2 separate regions of the Homo sapiens genome follow, and region 2 is linked to region 1. Evidence: fine-mapped QTL for protein levels in blood plasma. A gene starts in region 1. The other region holds a variant in brackets. All regions are shown on one strand. Distances are between the middles of the regions. Region 1 holds the start of NEO1 (neogenin 1). Region 2 has its middle 31 kb from the start of NEO1.

Region 1 (2,902 bases):
CGTTTAAAGCTGTTCTTTAACATTGGCAAAAGCCATGAGCTACATACACACTCTGCAAGGAAATGAAAAGTTTATCAGTCAAGTTACCTTGCAGTGTGATTTTAAATATTATTTCATATAAATCAGGGAAAAACAAGTACTGGTTCAGCGGTAAGACTGCTTTCAAATGTAAAAATATCATATCTCACACGAGTGAAAGTTTTGTCAAGTTTTATGGTACACCACCTTGGTCAAATAATTTTAACAGATTACATGCTAATTTGCCTTTCAACTGCTGAGTGTATCCTGCTCAACAATACCGTAAGGTCCTTCCCGGAAGGCTTGGCATTTTTGTTCGTTGGTCCCCTTAATAGGAATGCAGGTGGTTTCAGTAATCTATAATATTCCAAAAAAGAACTGAAAATGGCTTTTGAGGTTCAATGTTTATACAATGCCATCTGAAAACATTGTACAAGTACCTAAAATCTGATGCTTAGACAATTCCCTTGGTTAAGAGTGGTTAATAGGCTGTAAATATAGTTGTAATCCCCAGGAAAGAAGAGGCATTTCATAACGGAAACACTAACAGATACGATCACTCCGAGCCGCTCTCCAAGGCGTCCTCATCGTTAAATCAACACCAGGGGTTGTGAGCGGGCAATTGTGCCCCTCTGACACCCCCGCTCTTCCGCAGACTCGGGCTCCAATCCCCGCGCGAGGAGTCCCTCGAGACTAGCCAGCTCTTCCTCGAGACTTCGGAAGCTGGGAAATCCCTGGCCAGGGAACCAGGAGCTCAAGCCCCCTCCCCTTTCCTTTCCTGAAAATTAATGAATTGGCCGTCTGATTGTTTATTTAATGAGGTGTGTAGTGGCCTCTACTGGTGCTAGTGTGAGCACAAGAATGTCCCACTCTTACAAGTGGGATGAGCCTGGGGGAGGGGAGAGAGGCGAGGGGTGAACCTGCCTCCAGGTACAAAGCTGGGAACTAGACCCCTGCGCCCCCGACCTGCCCCCCGGCAGCCGCCCCTTCCCCGGTGGCGCCCCCTCTCGCCCTTCTCCTCCCCACCACGCGCGATCCCCTTTCTCTTCGGCAACCGGAGCCGAGGCAGAGAAGTTCCTGCACGTTTCCTCCTGGATCCTAAACAAAAACACCGCAGCCGCGGCCGCCTGAGCCGGTGCCGCGCCCCCGCGAACCCCCGGGCCCGCGCCCGCCGCTTACCTGGGGACTGCGGCGCGGAGCCGCTCCTGGCGGCCGCGGCGCCCGGCGCCCGGCGCCCGAGCAGCAGCAGGCAGTAGAGCCAGAAGGAGGGGGTGCTGAGGAGTCGCCGGGCTCCCCGCTCCGCCGCCATCTCTTCCCCGAGAGTGAGCGGCAGCGGCGGCGACAGCGCCGCGGAGCCCTTGCCTCCTTCCCTCCCGCGCGCCTCAGCCGGTCCCTCGCTGCAAGCTCGGCTCCCGCGGCCGCCGCTGCTCCAGCCCAGCCCGGCCCGGCCCGGCCCGCGCAGCCCCTCTCGCTGGAGGGGAGACTCCAGGGCGCCTCCCTCCTGCAAGGGGGCGGGGAGGGGAGGAGAGCGAAGAAGGGGAGTCAGTACATTCCGGGGCGGGGGGGGGGGGGCGGTGGGTCGGTCTCCAGGTTCCAGGCGCCGCCACCCGCCGCCGACTCCGGCTCCACACACCAGCGCGAGGGGGGCGGAGACCGCGGACGGCGGGGGCGGGGGCGGGGGCGGGGGGCGGGAGTCCCGGGCGCGCACACGCGCACGCGCGCGCCTCGCCCGCACCCCCTCGGCTCCGCGCGCGGCCCGCCCCCGCTCCAATCCCGGCTGCCGCCTCTCGGGCCGTGGCGGGCCCGCTCCCCTCCCCCTTCTCCCCGGAGCCGCTGACGGGTGCGGGGCGCGCGCGCCGGGCGCTGCTGCTGGCGTCAGGGAAACCCCGGAGAAGCGGATCCTCCTGCTCCTCCCGCCCGCTCGCCGCAGCCCCTCGGCTCCGCGCGCCCCCGCCTCCTCCTCCTCGCCTCGGGGACAAATTCCCCCCTCACCTCCCCAGATGCCTCTGGCTGCAGAGACCTGAGGGCGAGAGGCGCTCCGAGCTCAGGCTGGTCCGGGAGGCCGGCGTGGGCGCGCACCTCTGCACAGTCCGGGCCTGGAGCCTCTATATAGGGCCTCAGAGGAAACCGAAAGGCCTCCGGGAGGAAACCTGGGTGCGCAGTGGGTCGGCCCGGGGATTTATGTGCTCGCCAAAAACAATAGCGATCCCGCCCGACTCTTGCTGGGCCCTGGCGCGGCTCCCGTGGGAGGGGGCCGGCCGCGCAGCCGCTGACCTCCGGCTCCCAAGCCGGGCCGCCGTCGCCGCGCGCTTCCCCCGGGCAGCGCCGGGACCCGCCCGAACCGCGCCCCCACCCGCATCGCTCGGCCCGGGTCCAGGGAACTAGGCACAGACAAAGGTGCCCGCTGTCCACTTCCTCAGCTCGTGCGGGGGCCCCGACCGAGCCCTGGGACTCCCCGGGGCCAGTCTTCTCGCAGTAACTGCTACGTTTTACCTGTACCTTTGCGGGACACTTGGCGTTTTCCTACCTGGGAATCACGTCTTTCGCTGATAAACCAAGGAGCAAGTGGGATATGATTTTAAACCACTTAGTAATCGTGAGGCAGCACCCAGGCTACACAAAGTTAGGAGAAAGCAGTTTGTAGTTCCACTGCTGATGAGACTATTGATCATTTTATATACTGCACCCATGAAAAATTTTTAAAGAAAATTTATTTGTATGATTATGCAAGCAGAGTCACGTTTGGTGGTTGATAGGCGTTGGGTTTTATTCACTCTTCTGTGTAGTCGATAACCGAAATGTCTTGCTTCCCACAAGAAAATGGCTATTTCACTAACATATCCCTCTGTGCTTTCTCATAGTTACTTTCCAAAGATATTTTATT
Region 2 (2,902 bases), 31 kb after region 1:
CTCACAATCTGTGATTCCAGGAAAAGCTATGAATAATGGGGCCCTACCCCTTCAATCACAGTCCCCACTCAGACCACCCTCACTCCCAGGTATCTGAATCTAGAGTGGGAACACAGAGGGTAAGAAGGCAGGTGGGGCTGGGCTGTTTCACAGAACTTCTGCACTGGAGGAAGCCATCACAGGCATCATTACCACCTTGTGTTACAGATGAGAAAACGGAGACTCAGAAAATTAAATGTCTTCTCCGACACTGCCCAAGGTCCCTGGCAGAGCCAGGATTTAAACCCAGGTCTGTGTGACCCCAAAGTTCACGATCGTTCCACTCACCAAAATAGTCACCATGTGCAAAGCACTTATTAGGGGGAAACAGCTTTAGAGCTTGCCCATTTCACTCAGTGAATTAGATGCAGAGGCATATGTGACATTCAGTTATTTCTCATTTGCATGCACAGGATCATGGTCTTTCATCTCCCCACCTTGCTGCAATTCCCTGCATCAGCTCACCATTGTGGTCCTCACACGCCCTACCATTTGCCAATGAAGGGGTTTTAGTTTTTCTCAAGACACATTTTTCTGTGTTTTCAGGTCTGCCTTCATCTTCATCTTCATGAGACAGGCACTAGCCTATGTGTGTCCTCTATTTTCCTGAATTGTTCTTTTCTCAACCAATTACTGCATCCCCTTGGAGTCCCCCCACCCCCACCTCCAACTGCCTATAAAAGCAGGCTAGAAGCCAGGGTTTCCCTGTAAATACTGAAATTGTTCTTCCATTTTGCCATTACACATTATGCTTTAACCAAATAAAGCATGTCTGCTGAGGACACTGGAGCCTCTTCCGAGATAGTTTATTTTCCTATGACCTGCGAGCTTCTTTCTTCCTGATGAATCAGCACCGCCGCTTTGCTCTCAATGCTGCAGCAGTAACAAGGCATGAAGACTGTCAAGCCTCAGCCCATAAATGACTCTAAATGCACCTATTATTCCACTGTTTTTCCAGCTGATTCCTCCTGAGTTCAATACTGTGTTCTAGGCAGTTGTAAGTGTCAGTATATCTTGCTGAGGGCTCAGGGGGTTCGAAAAAGCATTTGATTTCTTGGGTGTACTGCATGCTTTGGGAAAACAAAACCAAACAAATAATTCTTATTTGAAAATCACATTTTCATAATCCTCAAAGGGAAAACTTAAATGCAGTGTCGACCTCATCCAATTAGCCCAGAAGCACATGTCAGGTTGCGTCTGTGAAGATAAACTCCAGAGGAAAAGACCCGCTTGACACACCTCTTGAGGGCTTGAAAAAATACTTTCAGTTCTATCCAGCCACCTGCCTTGATGTACTCAGAAGCTATGGAAGGTGCACTGTAATTTAACATAGATTGAGCACAATTATTTCCTCTTTGGGGGTCTAAGGGTCATGATCAGATGTGCTTGGGTTAATTCTTGCTGTCACTTCTCTGCTTCTGCTACAGACTCCATCAACTCCTCTTTTTTTTTTTTTTTTTT[G/TG]TTTCATTTTGTTTTAAGTGCCTGCCTTTTCTAGGCACTGTGGGAGGGAGACACAAGAAATGGCCAGATAGATCCCTTTCAAGGGCCTCTCAATACCAGTAATGTAAGCAGATTGTATCACTGGTGGCTGGACCCTGAAGAGAATTTCAATTCTAGCAGAAGCAGACGGAAATAGGCTTTTAAAATCCTTCCTCGCCGGATTCTAACCTGCTTGGGAACTGGCTGCCCACTTTTGCTGGTCTCCTAGCAACCAAGCCCCTTCCTCCGCAGGCCCTGCTGCTGTCCACTGGGCCAGGCTTGGGAGAGTCAGCCTTTCTCTGCCCTCCCCAGCACAGGGCAAGGATGTCACCGAGGGAACGGGAGTAAGCACTTGGAGAAATTGCTAAATGGTCTGTAAATGTACGGTAAAGATGACAATCCAAATGGGGGCACCTTTCACACATTTTTCAGGGGATCTTGGGATTTAAATTCATCCTTCTGCTTCCTTCCAATAATAGCTGGCATGCATGGAATGCTTTGTATTTTACAAAACACTTTTGCATCCATTACCTCATGCGATTCCCAACAAGAGCCTTGAGAGACCTCTACAGTGGGGAAAAGCATGGGGAAATTTTGTGAGTTCACTTCCAGATGCATTTAAAGGACTCAAGAAGAAACTCCAGGTCGTTCCATTAGTAGTGTCTTAAAAAGGGGAAAGAAACTCTAAACACCAATTTTTTCCATCATCATCGTCATTGGTAATTTTAAGTTCTGACCAGCTGAGCTTTGCCTTTGTGACAGGGAGTTGAGTGTCACCTAGGAAAGGTGATGTATCTCTTTCTCTCTCCTGCCCTATCACTCTCCTTGTTGCTTACACAGCAGCCACTTTGGGATTAAAATTGATGGAGGCTCTTTGTTGATGACAGCTTTGTTCAGAATTTTGCCTGTAATATTCTTCCCTTCTTGTGATAAAAGGAAAAGCAGAAGGGAGAAAAGCTGTCTTGGTCTGCTTGGGTCACCATAACAAATGACCATAGACTGGCTTAAACAATGGAAATGTATTTCTCACAGTTGTGGAGTCTAAAAGTCCCAGATCAAGGTCCAGCCGGGTCTGTTTCTGGTGCGGCCTCTCTTCCTGGCCTGTAGACAGTTGCCTTCTCTCTGTGTCTTTACATGGTGGAGAGAGGGCTTAACCTGAACCACCTCTGCACCACCTCTGCAAAGTCTCCATCTTTAATATAGTCACATGGAGGGTTAGGGCTTTAACATTTGATTATGGTCCTGAAGGATGGAGGGAAGAGAAGCAAAATCTTTCCACCGACTCAAAAATTCTGCACAGTCTGCCTTAGCTGGAGATGGAGGTACGTCTTTGAACTGTGGGTCAGAAAATTTGGCTCAGTGATAAAAATCTTTTTGTTTCCCT

What was found. A credible set is the group of variants that fine-mapping cannot tell apart. PIP is the chance, under the fine-mapping model, that this variant and not a neighbour inherited with it causes the effect. Sun 2018 read protein levels with aptamers (SomaScan).
Region 2: its variant is the best candidate, but not a certain one, in a credible set for the plasma level of the NEO1 protein (Sun 2018, PIP 0.68).

Annotation. Positions count from the first base shown.
Region 1 is chr15:73,051,101-73,054,002 of GRCh38, reverse strand. It overlaps NEO1 (neogenin 1), which reads right to left and starts at 1,540. Exons shown (of 29, transcript NM_002499.4): 1 at 1,198-1,540. The coding sequence starts at 1,327. RefSeq lists silencers at 1,221-1,600, 1,831-2,150, 2,241-2,310, 2,371-2,420.
Region 2 is chr15:73,020,349-73,023,250 of GRCh38, reverse strand. No RefSeq gene overlaps it. Among named protein-coding and RNA genes, the nearest start is that of NEO1, 31 kb to the left of the region's middle. The variant G/TG (reference allele first, on the strand shown) is at 1,501.